Homo sapiens: one gene and its partners. The protein of the gene in region 3 interacts with the protein of the main gene of each other region in a pairwise test. Each region holds a gene or a part of one and is shown on either strand. Other genes may lie near its edges.

What was found. Proteins that work in one complex are often made in the same cells at the same time.
Region 1: the proteins of ZMAT3 (region 3) and PRKRA interact in binary tests that used the Homo sapiens proteins (3 or more experiments, as listed by UniProt).
Region 2: the proteins of ZMAT3 (region 3) and STAU1 interact in binary tests that used the Homo sapiens proteins (3 or more experiments, as listed by UniProt).

What each region holds. Positions count from the first base shown.
Region 1 is NC_000002.12:178,434,164-178,441,191, reverse strand, and holds part of PRKRA (interferon-inducible double-stranded RNA-dependent protein kinase activator A), read left to right. Parts: intron 1-948; exon of another isoform or gene 949-2,325; intron 2,326-4,872; coding exon 4,873-5,047; intron 5,048-7,028. UniProt on the Homo sapiens protein: Activates EIF2AK2/PKR in the absence of double-stranded RNA (dsRNA), leading to phosphorylation of EIF2S1/EFI2-alpha and inhibition of translation and induction of apoptosis.
Region 2 is NC_000020.11:49,150,323-49,157,350, forward strand, and holds part of STAU1 (double-stranded RNA-binding protein Staufen homolog 1), read right to left. Parts: intron 3,750-7,028; coding exon 3,611-3,749; intron 1,426-3,610; coding exon 1,260-1,425; intron 1-1,259. UniProt on the Homo sapiens protein: Binds double-stranded RNA (regardless of the sequence) and tubulin.
Region 3 is NC_000003.12:179,061,782-179,068,809, reverse strand, and holds part of ZMAT3 (zinc finger matrin-type protein 3), read left to right. Parts: intron 1-1,000; 5' UTR 1,001-1,057; coding exon 1,058-1,327; intron 1,328-7,028. UniProt on the Homo sapiens protein: Acts as a bona fide target gene of p53/TP53. May play a role in the TP53-dependent growth regulatory pathway. May contribute to TP53-mediated apoptosis by regulation of TP53 expression and translocation to the nucleus and nucleolus.

The sequences.
Region 1 (7,028 bases), on a different chromosome or scaffold from region 3:
TACTGAAAGGAAGGAATTCTATAGGCTAGTCCTTACAGAGTGTGATGTGGGAACATAGAAGAAGGCATCCAACAAAAACAGGTTTGGAGACAGATTCCAGGAAGAAGTAATGTCTAAGCCAAGACCTGTAGAATGGGGGAAAAGAATTCCAGAGAGAAGAAAAAGCGTGTGCAAAGGCCAGGAGTGAAACATCGTATGCAGTCTAGGAGCCCTAAGTGATTTGTTGTGTGTAGAACATAGTGTTGGAGGGAGGGAGTCTCAATGAGGCCAGCAAAGTAAAGAGGGATTAAATCTTAAAGGGACCCCTATATAAGGAAAGTGAACTTTATCCCAAGGGTAGTACAAAGTCATTAAAGAATTTTAATCTGGGAAGGACAGGATCTAGTCTATACATTACAAGGAAATCACTTGGCTGCATTATGGTAAGTGAGTGAAATTAGGATCAAAGAGACCTGCGAGAGTGCTGTTACAGAAGACACGTGAGACATGACAGCTTGAACTAAGGTAGTGGCTGGGAAAATGGAGAGAGATGGGTAGATTTTAAAGTTATTTAGAAAACTGAGGTAAAGGGGCATGGTAATTGATTGGATGTGGGAAGCAAGGGAAAGGGAGGAAATTACTATTTTAAACTTGGCAATAGCAAGAGGGGAGCAGATAATGAACTAAATATATTGAATTTGAAGTGCTTATGGAATAGCTTATGGAATAGCTAAGTGAATATATCGAGTAGCTGAACAAATAAATTCAGAGCTTAAGAGATTGGCCTACACATGATATATAACTTCAGATTCTGATATTCACAGATAGGTGTGTCATGTGGTACATTATCTGAGAGTAGTGTATTAGGTGGGAAATAAAAAAGTACAACTGTAGCAACTTCTTCACTGAGCTTATGATAAAATAAGGGCTCATTCTTTAGAAAAAAATCAAAGACTATATACAAATGAGTAATATAATTTGATTTTACATTTTTAATAGAAAAATATAAAACACTGCATTTACTGCTTTTGGAATTTGAGTCAACAGTATCACCAAAATTACAAAGCACAGACAGATTTACAGGTGAAATTGGTTAAATCTTCAAAGAAGAGATCATTTTCAATGCTATTTAAACTCTTTTCAGGCAATGTATAGATAACATAAAGGAAACTTTTAAATTTATTCTCCAAAACCAACATAATACACCAAAACCTGACAATAGCAAGTTCAACAGAAAAAAAAAAATTACAGATCAATATGCCTTATGGTGAAACACCTTTGTAAAATGTTCAGTACAATATTAAAATAATGATATAGCATTGACAAGTAGGGTTTATTTAACTAAGACTATTTCAAGGTTAATAAGTTGGTTACTTTAATTAACCACATTAATGTGTCAAAGAGTAATATATAATCCTCTCAATGGATGCCAAAAAAATTTTGATAAAACTCAGCAATCATTACTGATAAAAACTTGGAAAAAAACCAAAATCATGGTTATATATTTATACATTATACTCATTCCCATTAATATCAGAAATAAGGACGCCCACCAACACCACTTTTATTTAACCTTGTTCTAGAAGTACCCACCAATTAAAAACAAATTAGACAAGAGAAAACAGTACGAAGTTGGAAATAAGAGGAGATAAAATGGTTACTAACTGCAAATGGTATGATTGTATCCCTTTAAAACCCTAAAGAAAAACTACTAGAAACAAGAGAATTCATCAAGGTAACTGATTATGAAATTAATATACAAAATCAATAACTTTTCCATATTGCCCAGAGTTATGTAGGTAACAACCAGAATAATTAAAAATAAAAAGCTAAAAATTATTGTATCTGGGAAGGGGACCTGAAGGTGGAGAAGGGGCAAGGCAGAGGTTGTTGCTTTTATACTTCTGTACTATTTGATTTTTTGCTGTATGTGTGTATCACTTTGACAAAACTTACGAAGCTTCATAACATTGGTCATTTTATAGAAAAATAGAAAATCCTATTCTGAGAAAATATACTAGAAAAAAGTCAGTAGTTTTCTTATTTACAAATAATAACTAGAATATAGAAGATCCCAATTTAAATTGTAGACAGGGATAGGCTATATGAAAATAAACTTAGAAAGAAATGCGTAGGACCACGTGAGGAAAAGTCTACTAAAGAATAGAGCAGAAAACATTGTAAATATATTTAAATGTAATGTGGTCTCACTCAAAACCTACCAGCGTTTGGCCAGGCACAGTGGCTCACGCCTGTAATCCCAGCACTTTGGGAGGCCGAGGTGGGCGGATCATGAGGTCAGGAGATAGAAACCATTCTGGCTAACGCGGTGAAACCCCGTCTCTACTAAAAATACAAAAAAAAAAATTAGCCGGGCCTGGTGGCGTGCGCCTGTAGTCCCCGCTACTCCGGAGGCTGAGTCAGGAGAATGGCATGAACCCGGGAGGCGGAGCTTGCAGTGAGCAGAGATCCACGCCACTGCACTCCAGCCTAGGCGACAGAGTGAGACCCCAACTCGAAAAAAAAAAAAACCTACCAGCGTTCATTTTGGACCTTGATACACGTTTATTGAAGTTTATCTGGAAAAAAACCCTCAAGAATAGCCAAGAAAACTGAAAAGGAAGAGTTGGGAGAGCAAGGGTGTGCTGCTTTACTAGAGAACAAAACATACTGTAAAACTGAACTTGTCAGACAAGTTACTGGGCCAGGAATAGTCAGAGGAGCGAATAGAGAATCCAGGCGTAGATGCTAATCCACATAGGACCATAGTATATAGCAACAGTGAGATTTCAGATCAGTGGGTGAGAGGATGGATTATTCAATAATGATGTAGAAACAGTTTACATCCACATTTGGGTGGGGGCTATATATATATATTTGTTGATGTGTATGACATCTATTTAGAATGCTTCCTTATTCCTTACACCAAAGTGAATTTCAGATGGATCAAAGATTTGAACATAAAAATTTGAAACAGTATAAATATTAGGAAACATGGAAGAGTTTTTCTTTTTAAAAATCTTAGCATGGGGAAAGCATTTTAACTTAAAACCTAGGTTAAAAGATTAATACATTTGACAACATAAAACCTACTGCACAGCAAAAAATCTGTAAATTAAGACAATAAAAAAGTGGGAAGAAATTATTTTCAACATAGAACTATAAAGGAACTGTTTTCAGTACTACCTTTAAAGCTCTTTTGTACACATCTGCTGCACACAGCAGCACATGCCTGTAGTCCCAGCTACTCGGGAGGCTAAGGTGGGAGGACTGCTAGAGCCCAAGAGTTTGAGAGTTAAGCCACACAGCAAGATCCTAACTCTTAAAAAAGAGAAAATTTAAAAAGCTCTTATGCATCAGTTAAAAAGACAACCCAGTAGAAGAAATGCAAACGATTAAGGGAAAAAAAGAAAAAATATTCAACTTTATTCATGCAAGATAAAATATTTTCACCTTTTAGATTGGCAAAAACTACAAAATTTGATAATAGCTGGTATTAGTGAGGGTATGAGAAAACAAGCCCCCTCCAAGACAGTTGGTAGGAGTATAAATTGGTTCAGAAATCAGTTTGGAAGTATTTATCAAAATTAAAAGTGTACATGTTCTTTGACTTAGCAGTTCCACTTCTAGAAATAATTCTACAGAGAAACTCATTCAAGTGCAAAAGAGTGTTTATTGCTAGTAAAAGCAAGAAACTAGAAACAACCTAAAGCTCACAGTTGGAGATCCGTAAGGTAAATACAGTGCATATATGTGCACTGATAAAAGAAAAATGAACAAGATGTAGAGGAGTAAGTTATCATTTGCTTTAAAAGATTGTGTGTGCTTGCATATGCATAGAACATTTATGGGAAGATACTGAAAAATGTTTAACAGTATGTCTAAGAAATAGAACAGAGGTCTTCAGGGAATGGGTGGTAAGGAAAAGAGACTGTACTCTTCATTATATATTTGTTCTTAGTGCATGTATATTTTTAACCATGTAAATAGTGTTCTTTATTTAAAAACAGTATTTTAAAGTTTCTATAATGTAAATTTTTATTTGGTAAATCTAATAAATTACTTAATTCCATATCATGCCATCTCTAAAATCTTTTGGAAATTGCCTCCCCTCTGTCGTGCTCATTAATAAAACAATATTAAGAGTAGTAACCCTACTTACTTCAGAAAGTAGTTGTTTTTATTAATGGCATATGAAAGCAATTTGAGAACCATAAACTAATATGGAAATATAAGGCATTCTAAGGACAGAGATGAAAAGGGAAGGATATAGGGGAGGATAAAGGAAAGAGGAAAAGCAGAAAGAAAAAGGAAAAAAATACTCAGTTGGGTTCTGGGATAGAAGTCTGATAAGAACTTTTTGACATCCTGTCATTTATTTGAATGACTTGTTCCTCAAACCCAACGCGCACATTTCATGTTTTTTTTAGTTTTTTTTTCTGTTTTTTTTCCTGTTTGATAGCTGTCAGTTATAGTGATTGGTATTTAATACAAAAAAAACCAAAGATATGAAAATTGTTCTATATTTTAATCTGCAAATTGCTCCATTAGGCAGATTTAATTATTTGTGGATTTACTTATGGTGCTTCCAGATATCTTGTACCTCTTAATGTGACCATCAGAAAACTTGACTGAGAAACATTTGTACTATACAAAATACAAAATGCTTTCAGTATATTATTGCAAGTGCTTCTTAAAAACATATAGTATTGTTAAATGTGTACTTTTTAATGTTGTCTTGTTTAAATTGGAAAATTAACCAAATGTTATCCATTTAAACATGCTTTATAACATATTAAATGTGAGTGCTTAATAAGTACTTTTAATGATACTGGTACGGGTGTTGGAACCCAGTCCTAGTCAAGAGTCTAAATCTTCATCTCTGTTTTTCAGACAAATGTAGTAGGACATTCTTTAGGATGTACTTGGCATTCCTTGAGGAATTCTCCTGGTGAAAAGATCAACTTACTGAAAAGAAGCCTCCTTAGTATTCCAAATACAGATTACATCCAGCTGCTTAGTGAAATTGCCAAGGAACAAGGTTTTAATATAACATATTTGGATATAGGTATGATTTTTTTTTCTTTGGCTTTCCCAAGACATGTTTATTTAAAAATGTGTTTGAGGAACAAAAATGTGTTTGAGGAATAAAAATTTCTATTACAATTTATTTTATTGATCAGGGATTCTAAGTATATATAATTACTAGGCCAGTAATATATATAATTGATATGTCCCATTCTTGTGGATAGTAATAATAGCTAACATCTATACAGTTATAACAAAAACAACAATAGCAAAGATAGAGTTTTACTGTGTGCCAGACACTGTTCTAAGATTACACGTATCTACTTACTGAATCCTCAGACTAACTCTATGAAGCAAATTCTGTTATCCTTATTTATAAGTAAAGGAAGAAAGGCACAGAAAGGTTGAGAAACTTGCCCAAGATCACATAGCTAGTCAGCGGTAGAGCAAGATTTGGGGAAGAGTCCCAGAAGATACCCTGGCTGTTAAACTAGCCCTGCTGGGCAAATGAAAAGGCACCTACATTTCTAGCACAAGTACAAGTTTGTGGTGCCCAGACCTTTTCTCTCTACTTTGTCACTGTATGCTGATTCTGGGAGGTAAATGGAACCAAGTCAATTTATAGTTTTATCCCATCTCAGCCATCATCATCTGTATTTTCTCTAGCCCTTAATCATTTGGATAGACAAATATGGACAGATGGGAAAGCAAGTCAGTATGGATTTTCTTTTAATTCAATTTATAGAGCTAATTAGTTGTGTGTGTTTGGTGTCTTGATTTTTTTTTTTTTTTTTTTTTTTTGAGACGGAGTATTGTTTCTGTTGCCCAGGCTGGAGTACAGTGGCACAATCTCAACTCACTGCAACCTCTGCCTCCTGGGTTCAAGCGATCCTCCTGCTTCAGTCTCCCAAGAAGCTGGGAATACAGGCATCCACCACCAAGCCTGGCTAATTTTTTTTTTTTTCCCCAAGATGGAGTCTTGATCTGTTGCCCTGGTTGGAGTGCGGTGGCATGATCTCAGCTCACTGTAACCTCTGCCTCCCAGGTTCAAGCAATTCTCCTGCCTCAGCCTCCTGAGTAGCTGGGACTACTGCTGTGTGCCACCACACCCACCTAATTTTTGCATTTTTAGTAGAGACGGGGTTTCACCATGTTGGCCAGGCTGGTCTCAAACTCCTGACCTCATGATCCACCCACCTCGGCCTCCCAAAGTTTTTTTTTTTTTAGTAGAGATGGGAGTTTCACCATGTTGACCAGGCTTGTCTCAAACTCCTGACCTCAAGTGATCTGTACACCTCAGCCTCCCAAAGTGCTGGGATTACAGGTGTGAGCCACCGTGCCTGGCCAAAGTATCTTGATTTAACATGTGTGAGAAATTTTATATCCCTATCCAACCACAGAAAGATGTGGGGACCTTGCTTGTCAGGGTCCCCTGACCCTGGGAAAGTAGGGCACTTAGGGGCTCAAAGAACTCCTGATATTCTGTGCTACTTTGGGATTGAAGGACGGGTGAAGTGCATTGTCTCAGTAAACCAATAATGATGCAGAACCTGGGAAGTCAGTGCAGACAGATGGTTAGAAAAGGTGGCTGATGAAAAATTAGCTGGGTGTGGTGGCACATGCCTGTAGTCCAGTCTACTAGGGAGGCTGAGGTGGGGACAATGACTTGAGCCTCTGAGGTTGAGGCAGCAGTGAGCCATGATCATGCCGCTGCTCTCCAGCCTGGGTGACAGAGTTAGACTTGTCTCAAAAAAAAAAAAGAAAAGAGGCTGGAGGCCAGGTGCGGTGGCTCACACCTGTAATCCCAGCACTTTGGGAGGCCAAGTCGGGCAGATCACCTGAGGTCAGGCGTTTGAGACCAGCCTGACCAACACGGTGAAACCCTGTCTCTACTAAAAATACAAAAATTAGCCAGACAAGGTGGCGTGCACCTGTAATCCCAGCTACTCGGGAGGCTCAGGTGGGAGAATCACTTGAACCCGGGAGGCAGAGGTTGCAGTGAACCGAGATCGCGCCACTGC
Region 2 (7,028 bases), on a different chromosome or scaffold from region 3:
TACACTTACAATAGTCAATTTAGGTTATATAATTTTTACCTCCATTTTTTTTTTTTTGAGACAGAGTCTCGCTCTGTCCCTGAGGCTGGAGTGCAGTGGCACAATCTCGGCTCACCGCAAGCTCCGCCTCCCGGGTTCATGCCATTCTCCTGCCTCAGCCTCTCGAATAGCTGGGACTACAGGCGCCCACCACCACGCCCGGCGAATTTTTTGTATTTTTAGTAGAGATGGGGTTTCACCATCTTAGCCAGGATGGTCTCAATCTCCTGACCTCATGATCCACCCGCCTTGGCCTCCCAAAGTGCTGGGATTACAGGCGTGAGCCACTGCGCCCAGCCACCTCAATTTTTTTTTTCTAAGTGACATTCTATATCTCCTTCCTTTGAATCTGGGCTCCATGACTGCTTGACCTGTAGAATATGGCAGACACGATGCTGTGATTTCTGAGCCTAAGCCTTAAGAAACTGGCAGCTGCTTCCATTTCCCATCTTCTAGGATGCTTACTCTTGGCAACCAGCCACCATAACATGAAGAAGTATAAGCAATCCTTCCATAGGTCACCCAGGGATGAACTGAGGTCCTGGGGCCAGAACCCCCAGCTGAGCTCCTAGCTGACAGCAAGCACCAACTTACCAGCCACGTGAGTGAGCCACCTTAAAAGCAGATCCTCCGGCCCCGTGCAGATCCACTTCAACCAAAGCTGTGTGGAACGAAGACAAGCTACACCCTTGCCAAGCCCAGCCTCAATCACAGACTCATAAGCAAAATAAATGCCTGGAGATGTTTAAACCATCACTAAATTCTATGATGGTCTGTTATGAGGCAAAAGGTAACTGGCGCTTCTATATAATCAAGAGTGGCTGGTAAAAAACAGCTTCAGAAAATCCTCTAACCTGGTACCCATATATCACAGTAGATTCTGGCAAGCATAATCTTGAGCACCGAAGACTTCATCCATACATGTTCTTCACAACTCAACTGAATCACAAACTTTCTAACGTGTTCACACCGTATCATGTCACTCAAAACCATGCTACAGACTGAAAAAGAAGGCAACTGACTTTCTTGTTAAGAAATTTTAAAAGGAAAAAAGGAGTAAAAAGCAAGAAAGCTACAGAGCATAAAATCTTGGAGGCATTCAAATAAAAATTATGGACAGCTGTCAATGTGCCTTCTTAGAAAAGATAATGTGCGGTGACATCTCCCCACTACCCTCCTACCCTGTCGAAGCGTCAGGGAGCCTGGGCTCAACTCCTCACCTCCAGCCTCTCTGGCAGGGGCTCATTCTGCAGGATCCTCAACGCTTTGGCAGCAGCATCGTGTTTCGCAGCCTGTCTTGTCTTTCCTTTGCCATTAAATTGCTGTCCTCCCACAGAAAGTTCCACTTGATAAAGTAAAGGTGGAACTGGAAATGGGTAAAAGTACCTAGAAATAAAAGGAGGTTAGGCAAATTACAGTCTCAAGTTGATAAGTCACCTATACACTCTCTGGCAAATGCAAGTATTTCCTTCATCACGATCCTACTCACATTAGTGTTTGATGCTAATCACTCTTCATCAATATATCCAGAGATTTCATAAAAGCTTAAACTGGATTAGAATTGCTACACAGTATAAGCAAAGAGTGTTTAGCAATCCAAACTTACATCTCACAAAATACAATGGCTTATAAATTATGAGTTTATCACACTAACCTGCACTGACAAAATCTAAAATGAATTAGGCTTTGGCTGAGACAAAAACTTGGCTTGCTCTGCCTTCTCAAACCTTAGCTTTAAATTTGCATGTCTCCAATAGGAGGCTGGGAATTTTAATGCACAAGTCTTTCAAAAGGACCCTCATTTCAAGAAATCCCAATAAGCTGTAGCCTACCTAGCAGAACCCAGTTTCTTATCCATTTCCCTAGCAGAACCCAGTTTCTTATCCATTTCATAGCTTATATTTTTAAAATGACTATCCCCCAACAGAGAGCAGGGAAATGAAGAATTCCATTTTGCTCATCATCTATCCACTAATGTCTTTTTTTTTTTTTTTTTTTTGTGAGATGGAGTTTCTCTTGTTGCCCAGGCTGGAGTGCAGTGGTGCGATCTCGGCTCACTGCAACCTCCGCTTCCTGGGTTCAAGCGATTCTCCTGCCTCAGCCTCCCGAGTAGCTGGGATTACAGGCACCTGCCACCATGCCTGTATTTTTAGTATTTTTAGTAGAGACAGGGTTTCACCATGTTGGCCAGGCTGGTCTCAAACTCCTGACCTCATGATCCGCCTGCCTTGGCCTCCCAAAGAGCTGGGATTACAGGCGTGAGCCACCACACCTGGCCTCCACTAATGTCTTATTACTGCCAGCAGAAGATTTTTAATCCATGGCATTTTCAGGTTTCAATTAATATTTTATTGCACCAAAGCTATTTACAAAACGCACAAGTTCAAAAGTCAAAAAGTACCCAATAATCAGGTAATCTACAAATGCTGGGAATCATTGTCTTGCAGGAATCATGATGCTATGGGAATCATGTTTAAATATGATTCAGTTACACAAAGCAGTTACAAGGGTTATCTTTAGCCAGGCTGCTTGAGGGCACAAGCCACACTGCCAGCAAGAAATATGCTCAGGCCCTACCCAAGAGCAGTAGTTAAAGAAGCACAAAGGAGCCGGGCGTGGTGGCTCATGCCTGTAATCCCAGCACTTTGGGAGGCCGAGGTGGGCGGATCATGAGGTCAGGAGATTGAGACTATCCTGGCTAACAAGGTGAAACCCCGTCTCTACTAAAAATACAAAAAATTAGCCGGGTGTGGTGGCAGGCGCCTGTAGTCCCAGCTACTTGGGAGGCTGAGGCAGGAGAATAGCATGAACCCGGGAGGCAGAGCTTGCAGTGAGCCGAGATCATGCCACTGCACTCCAGCCTGGGCAACAGAGCGAGACTCCGTCTCAGAAAAAAAAAAAAAAAAAGAAGCACAAAGGGCCGGGTGTGGTGGCTCACACTTTAATCCTAGCACTGCGGGAGGCCAAGACAGGAGGACTCCTTGAGCCCAGAAGTTCAAGACCAGTCTGGGCAACATACGGAGACCCTGTCTCAATGAATTAAAAAAAAAAAAAAGAGGCGCAGCCAGGTGTGGTGGCTCACGCCTGTAATCCCAGCACTTTGGGAGGCCAAGGTGGGCAGATCATCTGAGGTCCGGAGTTCAAGACCACCCCAGCCAACATGGCAAAACCCCGTCTCTACTAAAAAATACAAAAAAAAATCAGCCAGGCGTGGTGGCAGGTGCCTGTAATCCCAGCTATTCGGGAGGCTGAGACAGCCTCCTCACTTGAACCCAGGAGGCAGAGGATACAGTGAGCCGAGACTGCACCACTGCACTCCAGCCTGGGTGACAGAGCAAGACTCTGTCTCAAAAAAAAAAAAAAAAAAAAAAAAAAAAAAAAGAAAGAAAGAAAAAAAAGAAAAGGCGGGGGAGGGGCACAAAGGCACAAGAGTAATTAAGACCAACTTCAACACTTGGCAGGCCCAAACCAAATCATTACTCCCTCCACAATCTAGAGGTACTGGTTTATGTAAAAGATCAGACACGTTTTCTCCTGTATTTTACAAAAAAAAAAAAAAAAAAACACATACCTCGGGGGATAAGCACCTCCTCTCATGTTGTAGTTATAGGTGGACTGCATCCGAGAGTAAGGGTCAACAGGCTTATACATTGGTTTTTTTCCAAGTTTCATGCACAGTGCATTTAGTTCTACAGTAGGGGTTATGCTTTCTGCAAGAAAGAATCGACAAAGAACTGTTTTTTTCTGGTATGAGAATGATACTCACTAAAATAAAATGTAATAGCATGCTTTCTGCTAATTGGATTCATGATACTTTACATAAAAGGACCTGGGTGGCTCACTGCTAGGCATCAGACAAGGAAATCCAAGAATATGCTGTGATTTCTAGATATTTATACACAGTCGACAGCACAAAATCTACTCTGAGGGTTACCAGAGGAGCCACAATTTAACCCAAGACATTATCAGTGAAAGCTATATGGTACAGCTGTCAGAAATAAGTTCCAAAACACATCAAATTTCACGATTAAAAAATCCCATGTAAATGTCCAAATTGTTTTACTGTTTGAGAATACTTAATCAATATAACCTTGGTTGTACTGATTTACAGGATTATTGGCTTGCACTCAGAAGTATGTCCGTACACAGTATTGAACGATGCATTTATTACATTACTAACTGGATGCAAAGCACTGTGCTAAGCTTAAGAAACACAATTCCTGGCCAGGCGTGGTGGCTCACGCCTGTAATCCCAGCACTTTGGGAGGCCAAGGCAGGAGGATCACAAGGTCAGGGTATCGAGACCATCTTGGCTAACATGGTGAAACCCTATCTCTACTAAAAAATACAAAAAATTAGCCAGGCATGGTGGCGGGTGCCTGCAGTCCCAGCTACTCAGGAGGCTGAGGCAGAAGAATGGTGTGAACCTGGGAGGCGGACCTTGCAGTGAGGGTGGCTCACACCTGTAATCCCAGCACTTTGGAAGGCCGAGGCGGGTGGATCACCTGAGGTCAGGAGTTCGAGACCAGCCTGGCTAACACGGTGAAACCCCGTTTCTACTAAAAATACAAAAAATTAGCCAGGCATGGTGGCGCATGCCTGTAATCCCATCTACTCAGGAGGCTGAGGCAGGAGAATCGCCTGAACCCAGGAAGCAGAGGTTGCAGTGAGTCGAGATTGCGTCACTGTACTCCAGATGAGGAAACAAGAGCAAAACTCTGTCTTAAAAAAAAAAAAGAAACACAATTCCTGCCCCAGAGGAGTTCAAAAAACACAAAGCACACTCAAAGAGTTACAATACAACATGATGTGCAACTTAAAGGTGAAAAATCAGTGAGGAGGTGGCAACCCAATTCTCTTCACAGAAGTCACACAAGGCCCACAAAATATTCAGGTATTTCCATTCTTGACATTTCTAATGAATTTGACCTGTGGTCATACTTGCTACGAAAATGAGTTCCATTTTCATACACAACAAGTTATCTCAAAATTATCAACTTCAGAAAATACATGCTATTCATTTTCCAATTTTTTTTTCTTTCAGTTCATCCAATCCATAAACCTTTAAAAACCATTTAAAAAGAAAACCAGCCTGGAAAGATTAGTGTCAGTGCACAATATTTAAAAACAACACTTTCATATCAAAAACAGAACACTAGAAATGGCAAAATCTAAATGCACATAAAAATCCACTTTAAAATGCCTCTTTAGGATGTATATAGAGAGAAATAAAAAAGACCTGATTCTGTACTATAACTGGTTCAACTAAATTTAATGCATGAATCAAATCTATAAGAATATCTTTGGGGTTTGCACAGAGGGCCACATGAATTACAGATCTCTCTCTTCCTTGCATTAGAATTATATTTTTTACAAAATTCATATAATTGCATTTTAAGTACAGTCTGAATCATTTTAAGAGCAGCTCTGATCCACAGAATTTGTCTGCAATAGAGAATAAACATGAAGAAAGTATACTGCAAAGAAATCAAAAGTAACAAGAAAGATGTGACTGGTAACTTCCCAGATTCCTTCCTACATACGAAGACCTGGGATGACTTCATGCATGTGAGGGGGTCTCTGCTAAAACAGCCATTAATGACACAGCCTCCAGGTCACTGATCCCCAACCCTTCACCAGCCATGCCTTCTTGATTAGTATGCTCCCTGAATGGGCTCCTTGTCTGAGGAGATACTACCTGCTGGCTTGTATTTAAGTAATATTTACATTTTTCTCATTCTTTTTAATAACTAAGAGACATACAACTGGCAATAAGCACTTCTGACCAACAAAATTACAATCAATATTACCACACTGACTTGATGTGACTCTAAATTAAACTTATATTCTTGCTAATCTATACACTCTTATCAAAAATATATTTTCATTAAACTTCGGAAATCTTTGAAATTATCTGGTCACCCGCCATCCTTCCTATGACCGCCTTTCCAGATTGTCAGGCGTTAAGGCATCATAGATTGGAAACCACTGCTTTACAATGAGGTTAAGGATTCCTAAAAAATAAGCATTTGTCACTGGTAGTGTAGAATCTGTGCTTTCAAAATCAACAAGTTAAGAAACCATTCATATACATACTACATGGTACCTCTAGACACACTTTTGAAAGGTACCTGTTTGGCCCATGCATAAGACCTGGATTCCTTCCTTCGCTACCAAAAGGGCTGACTATGGGCTTAGGAAATTTTGTTCCCTCCAAAGCTTTAGCAGCAGCTGTGTGTTTGACCTTTTTAATACCAGTTCACTCAGCTCCCCATTGCTGATTTCCAAGTGTCAGCAGTACTGTAAATTCCTAGAAATGAAAAGTGTGAGCTCTCAAATTCATGAAACCTGACATTGACTGTAATATGTCACTTGAACCTTGAACACTTTCTATGGTCATGGTTTAAGAGGCCTGGTCTTATCTTGATAATTCATCCTGTCATCCCCTTCTTATCCTTTTTTGTTGTTTTTTATAAACAACAACAAAAAAAAGAGATTGTGTGTGTATGCACTGAAATTTTTTTTTTTTTTTAAGAGACACAGTCTCACTCTGTCCCCAGGTTAGAGTGCAGTGGTGTGATCTTGGCTCAATGCAACCTCCACCTCCTGGGTTCAAGAAATTCTCCTGCCTCAGTCTCCCGAGTAGCTGGGATTACAGGCACCTGCCACCATGCCCGGCTAATTTCTGTACTTTTAGTAGAGACAGGGTTTCACCATGTTGGCCAGGCTGGTCTCGAACTCCTGACCTCAAGTGATCCACCTGCCTCAGTCTCCCAAAGTGCTGGGATTACAGGCATGACCCACCACGTCCAGCCTCAAAATTCTCTTCCAATTACTTCTCATGAAAGATATTTTGCAAACTTGATTTAAACACACAGCAGTACTTCACACAAATTAAGACAATGTTTGTTTTGATGCTGCAATGTGTTTGTGGGCTCTTGTTTGAAAACATAACCACCCTTTTTTTCAGTTTTTGAAATGGGGTCTTG
Region 3 (7,028 bases):
AAACAAAACTGTATATTCCAAACAGCACATCTGTGGCTGTATGTGGCCCACAGGCTGTTTGCCACCTCTGCTATACATTTGCTCAACTACTTAAATATTGCTAGTTGATCAGAAGGAACATATTTTATTTATTTCTGTCATACTTTAGGCTACTCCTAGAGTTCCCTGAAATTTTAGCTAGTTCTATAAGTGCTTTAAGAATTCTGCAAGATGATATTCTTTTATACACTCTTTTTGATATTGGTTGGTTGGAAGATATGTTTGCTAAGATTTTTAGCTGGTGGTCTTTTTTTTTTTTGAGTCACAGTCTTGCTCTGTCACCCAGGCTGGAGTGCAATGGCACGATCTCGGCTCACGACCACCTCTGCCTCCCCGGTTCAAGCGATTCTCCTGCCTCAGCCTCCTGAGTAGCTGGGATTACAGGCACTCGCCACCACACCTGGCTAATTTTTGTATTTTTAGTAGAGACGGGGTTTCACCATGTTGTCTTGAACAGGCTGGTCTCGAACTCCTGACCTCAGGTGATCTGCCCACCTTGGCCTCCCAAAATGCTGGGATTACAGGCGTGAGCCACCACACCTGGACAGCTCGTGGTGTTTTTGTCTGTGCATGATTATCATTAAGAGTGTTTAAGTGTAAGTGTGCCTGAGGGAAGGGGTCTGGACTAGGTGACATTTGATGTCCATTTCAGCCATGTGACTTTTAGATTTAGCCGTGGATGCAATGCTGTTAATGTTCACGGGCCAAAGGGATAGCAGTTGGAACTGTGCCAAGCAAAATAAAGCCAAATCTATAAAGCCATTCTCAGTGGAAGAGCACCGTGTTAACATGAATTAACAGGCAGGGGAAGTCTGCTAAATGAGGCCAAAGGAAAGAAGTCCCAAAGATGGGTTTGGAGAAGTAGAAGAAAGGGTCAGATTATGTTGTCATTTACATGTTATCTTGCTGAAGTCTGATTTTCAAGTGAGTTTTTTTTTCTGTTTTTTTGCTGTTGATTCAGATTTGAAGACCTTGCTTCTCATCACCCACTGGATTATGCCCCAGGCTTCCCTACCCAATGATCCTCTTGCAACACGCCGTGCTTCCTCCACCTAAGCAGCCCTCACCCTCGCCTCCTATGTCAGTGGCCACCAGGTCTACAGGAACCTTGCAGCTTCCACCACAGAAGCCTTTTGGGCAGGAGGCTTCCTTGCCTCTTGCAGGGGAAGAAGAGTTATCGAAGGGAGGGGAGCAAGACTGTGCCCTGGAGGAGCTATGTAAGCCCCTGTACTGCAAACTCTGCAATGTCACCTTGAACTCTGCACAGCAAGCCCAGGCTCATTATCAGGTAAAGGGAGAAAAGAAAACCAGGCATTGAGTAGGGTGAACATTTCAGGGCTCTGGCTATTTAGCAGTTGTCTCTCCAGATATGACTGTGCCTGGAATACCAAGATGGCTTAGAGAACAACTAACTATGAATTTGTTTGATTAAAAGCCTTATGTTTTTACTTTAAAAATAAGTATCACTTTTTGTAGACTGGATCTCAACCTGTTACACTAAGCTGTGTGGCATGCGATAGCTTACCAGTCTTTGTAGGCAAATGTAAATGATCTATGCTGGCATCTGAACCTGTAGTCTTAAGAAGAACAAGTATTTAAACCACTATTTACCAGCCTGGGTGACAGAGCGAGACTTTGTCTCAGACAAACAAAAAAACCCATGATGTACCGAACTCAATTCAGTGTAAAATTGTTTAGAAGCTAATATAATTTGCATCATTTCGAGGTGACCTCTGTGCATGACTCTTATGCTTTCCATTTTTGACTTCTAACTCTTATATATCCTATCACTGGTAAGGAAAACACAGGTATCTTTTTGTGGTGAGAATAAAATGACATTGCAATATTGAGCCCTATCCTTCATTCATAATAAACATACTCTGATTTATTTTAGCCCATTAGCGTAAACTAATACTGGTTTTTAAGATTTAAAGCTTTCACCTCCATGTTGAATAGCTAGTGGAAAGGACCATTTTAAAGGGTAATATTACCTAAGAACAAATGGAAAATTAAACTTTGGTTAGCAAGAGACGGTACAATATTTCTTTTTATTCTAGACATTTGTCTGTATAAAGTTAAATAATTTCCTTTTTTGGAGAAAAGAGACCTGGGAGATAATCAAGGACAAAACCCAGTGAATGATGTCTTCCCGGGTCATCACTGATTTGATTATTTATTATCTGCTTGAAAATCTCTAGTAATAAGAGAGTATGGTAGAAGACTGTTACACAGGTGTTTCTTCTGTTGTGCACTATAACTTTCTCCACTTTGTTTACTGTGGGTGTTAAGTCTTTTCTGTTTTGTTTTGATCCCAAAGACTGATTATTGTGTTGCTTTTTGATTGTATGTCGGAAGTATTTTGATGGTCAATTGTTTTCTCTGGTATTTAGGGGAAGACATAATATGTTGCCTCCTTTAAGTTCCCATTATGTGGTTTTGTTTTGCCCTCAGGTGCAGAGAGTTGAGTTAATTATATCTCGCAGCTCTTGACATGTGTCATCATTGGTTCCTAAAGGCCTCTTCTGGTTTTATTTTTACGTTTTCCCCCTTTCCCCAGTACGTACTCTCATCACCTTGCTGTCCAGTACAGTTGTTTGATACAGGGTCTTCCTTTGCCTGTCTTTACCATTCAAGCAGAGTCTGTTAGCATGATTAATCTCAACTCCAAGACTGTATTAGCTTTCTTCATTTATTCCTACGGAATGTTCAGTTTTATAGCCTAAGACTCACTTTGAAAAAAGAAGCCAGGGTTCTAAAGGTTTAATTATTAGCCATATAAAGCCCCTAACAAATCATTAACTTGGGGGCAAACCCACTTGTATGCTATACACATATATAATTATCTTTATTTATTTATTTTTTTTTGAGACAGAGTCTCGCTCTGTTGCCCAGGCTGGAGTGCAGTGGCGCGATCTTGGCTCACTGCAGCCCCTGTCTCCGGGGTTCAAGCGATTCTCATGCCTCACCCTCTCGAGTAGCTGGGATTACAGGCACACACCAGCACACCCAGCTAATTTTTGTATTTTTGGTAGAGATGGAGGTTTGCCATGTTGGCTAGATTCAGCCTCCCAAAGCGCTGGGATTACAGGCGTGAGTGACCTACCGCACCCAGCCTATAATTCCCTTTTAAGGAAGAGTTGTTTACTTTTATGAGGGAAAACTCTCGGGCAGTGTGTAATTTTAACATGTCCATGGATTATACATATACCTTATTTCTTTTTTTCTCCTAATAAAACTTTTTGACTTCATGGACTTTGAAAGGTGCTACTGATGATACATAGAGAAGATTCAGTTTGATGCAAGGTCTTTGGATTATAAGGCTAAAACTAGATAAGCAGAATCAACATTTGTTTTTTTCTTTTATTTTACATTTTTGCGTATGTTCTAAACTATGTAGTTGACAAGATTAGTAATTATACTTAATTTCAGTTTCCTCAGTGATACAGTGAATAAATAAATTAGAAAATATAAGAAAAGGGAAATACAATTTAGGTAAATTTCTCAAAAATCAGAATTTTTAAGTGGAAAGGTTGAAGGAGAACAGGATGTAATGGGACAATTTAAGCAGCTAAAAACCAGGGTAAAGATGGGAAAGAAAAGAGGCAAGCAAGTAATCAGAAAGTAGGAGCTTACAGAAAATGAAAAGTTTGGGTATAATAAAGTATATTGCTAAGACTTCAGAAGCAAAGATTCGAATGAGACTGATGTTATTGGTAACTCTTAAAGAGAGAAGGTTTTAACAGACAACTAAGGCAAAGCAGTTCATGTGTAAAAATACAGAGCAATTATGTTAGGGTAACATAGAAGAAAGGTAATCTTAGAAGTGAAATCTGGATTTCAATAAGATAGAAATGGTCAAGATGAGAGTGGATAGTGCAAAGTGTAGATCAGAATAATAAACAGAGTGTGAACATAACTCTAGAAGTGGGTGAGCTACCAAAGAAGGAAAGCGTAGAAATGTTAGCCAAAAAGATGCATCAGAGGGTGTACATGAATAAGCAGTAATAAAAGAAAGATTACTGAAGACAAGGCTAAGACCAGGCCAGGTGTGGTGCCTCACACCTGTAATTCTAGCACTTTGGGAGGCTGAGGCGGGAAGATAGTTTGCGTTCAGGAGTTCAAGACCAGCATGGACAGCATAACAAGACCCTGTCTCTACAAAAATACAAGGAAATTAGCTGGGCATAGTGGCAGACACTTGTAGTCCCAGCTACTCGTGAGGCTGAGACAGGAGGCTCACTTGAGCCTGGGAGATTGAGGCAGCAGTGAGCTATAATCATGCCACTGCACTCCAGCAAACAAAGACAACAACAAAAAACACACAAAAAAGAGAAGGATAAGACCAATGAGTAAGGCTTACCAAGCACAGGAATAAGTAGAATGCCAATGATTGTAGACTAATAAAGTGGTTTAGGATTAAATGAGATGATGGATGTAAAATTTTATTTCAAGACTAAAAACTTACTAATTTTTAATACAGAGCATTACCAAGCTGTACCTTCATTATTTCAGTTATGTGTGAGATAAAATGGGTCACGGGTAGCCTGTTTATGAGCTAGAAACACATTTGTGTGAAGTGATAAATCACTGTGATTACATTACTCAAAACTTTTTAGTCAGTTGATGCCATTGTTGAAATCGTGGAGTTTCAAATTGCCTCGGGTATTGTAAACAATGGTGGTTACACTAGAGCCGGACTGTATCATGTGCCAGTAATCCAGGACACGCAGTGGAAACTGCCCAATAAATACTTCCCTTTAAGCTCACTAGCATTTTTTCCTGACATCCCAGTGTTCCCAAGCTGGGGCTACCTTAGCAGTGACCCATGTGTATCTGTAGTCATCACAGATTTAGTTTTATTCCAAGGACTTTTAAAAACTGGTCAGTTGGCTTCAAAACATCATTAGCTATTGTTTTATTTTTAATGAAGCCATCAAATATTATATTCTTAAAATTAGGGCTTTGGATATAACTTAATTTAAAATCCAATCTTTGGAGGAGAAACATATTTTCATTTTATTAAAGTCTATCTGCAGGCTTCAGGTTACTTAGGGCAAGGCTGGCATGGGGTAACATACCACTGTTTCATCAGCATAAATGCCCAGAGGAAGAATTGCTTTAGCAGGGAAGGTTATTAACAGAAATAAAGAAAAGCAAAAAGCACGGATGAATTTTGCTAAGGCATCCACAGTTTAAAGTCACCAGTTTATTTGCTAATTTGCATGTATATATTTAAAAAGATCTACTTACTCAAAGTACATTTATAAAATTTGTCATAAACATGGCTTTCTATTTGTAATAGTTAGTGGCCAGATAGCAACCTACCATGAATTAGATTGATTAGAGAAAGAGAACACAGGTGAAAGAATAGTTTTAGAATTAGGATGCTGAGTGTAGTGGTCTTAATTCATAATTCATAATGAAGAGAATGCTATTAGATTTTTCCCAAAATTTAAAGCACTGATTTTGGCACTTACATTTTAATATTGATCACCCAGGTTTGGATCACTGAATTAAATCTCAGCTAATTTTCATGTATTCAAAATTCTCCTATCTGATTTTTTTCCAAATGGACTTGCAGTGGACTGAGAATGGCCAAAACACACTTCAGATTTGGTTTTAATGCATGTGCTTTACACGTGGCATATATGCTTTGGAATCTAACAACTTTGGGCTAGGATCTTGGCTCAGTTACTTTAGGCAAGACACTGAATCTCTCTTTATTCAATATCTGTAAAGTAGGGGTCATTGTACTTCCTCTGCAGGATTGTGAGACTTGCATATGTTATCTTAATAAATGCTGGTTGATTGAAATAGGTTGCTATTGTTTAGAAGTGTTTGGGTCTCAAATGAGCAGAATGAGATGGCACACAGCTGTCTTACTGTTGTTACTACCTTGATAGTAACTTGCTGTAGGACCTTGTGTAAATAAGCAAAACTTTGTTTTCCTTGATTGTTCTCCCGAGATAGTCTTTTAGATCCAGATACCAGGTTACCTTAAAAGATTCTCATGAAGAATAATTCAACCAACAAATGAGGCAAAATAAAATGATTTTCAAATGTAAATATGCTTTCAACCATACTACTCGTCTGTCAGCTTAGTCCATTTACCCAATAATCAATCCTTGTTGGTTTTCTTGTTCTGCTCTCTGAAATCGCCAGCTCTGTAGGCTTTTCTAGCTCTTGCTTTGATCACTTTAGAGGACAGAAGCTCTCTGTGATCCTGCCAGTTTTTTGCCTCCTCCTCTAGTCTACCCCTACCTCATTTCTTCTTATTTCGAAATGATAGATACCCTTTCTTTTGTCCAAGTTTGATTCCTCATCCTGTTTTCTGGATTTCATCACCTTTTCACCTCAATCAAAAACTATGCCCAAGTCTTTTCTATATAAATAAAAATAGCAGCAGCAACCTTCTGTTTACTTTTAATCCCTTCTATTAGCAACCTTTCTCCTCTCCTCTCCTGTCCTTAGCATTCTGCAGGTAGAATTGTTCTCTTCAGGTCTTTATTTCCCATTCATTCCTCAGCCCACTGTACTCTGATTTCCATTCCTATAGGCCGCTGAAATGGTCCTTTCCATTGTCACCATGATCTTACAGGCCAAATCTAACTCCTTCTCACTTGACCCCTTTGTAGCATTAGCCAATGGTAACAACTTTCTCCTAAAAAAATTTAAAAATATTTTTATTTAAAATAATGCCTGAGGAACCAAAGGATTTATAATGAAAAGTAGTAATCACCTGTTCTCCACCCATTCCCTACCTTTTTTTTCCTCTCCATTCTCTTCTCCTTTCTGACTCCCAACTTGAGCTGGCTATAGTTTTACTTTGACACTGTCAAGATTGATCACATTTTTATCCATTCTGTCATCAAATTAAGTTTTCCATGCTCTATTTGCAGGTTGATGCCAATTGTTGAAAATTAACATTGAGTTTTTGCATTATTGTGAATAGGGAATTTTGCACTATTATGAGTGGGGAAATATTGTTC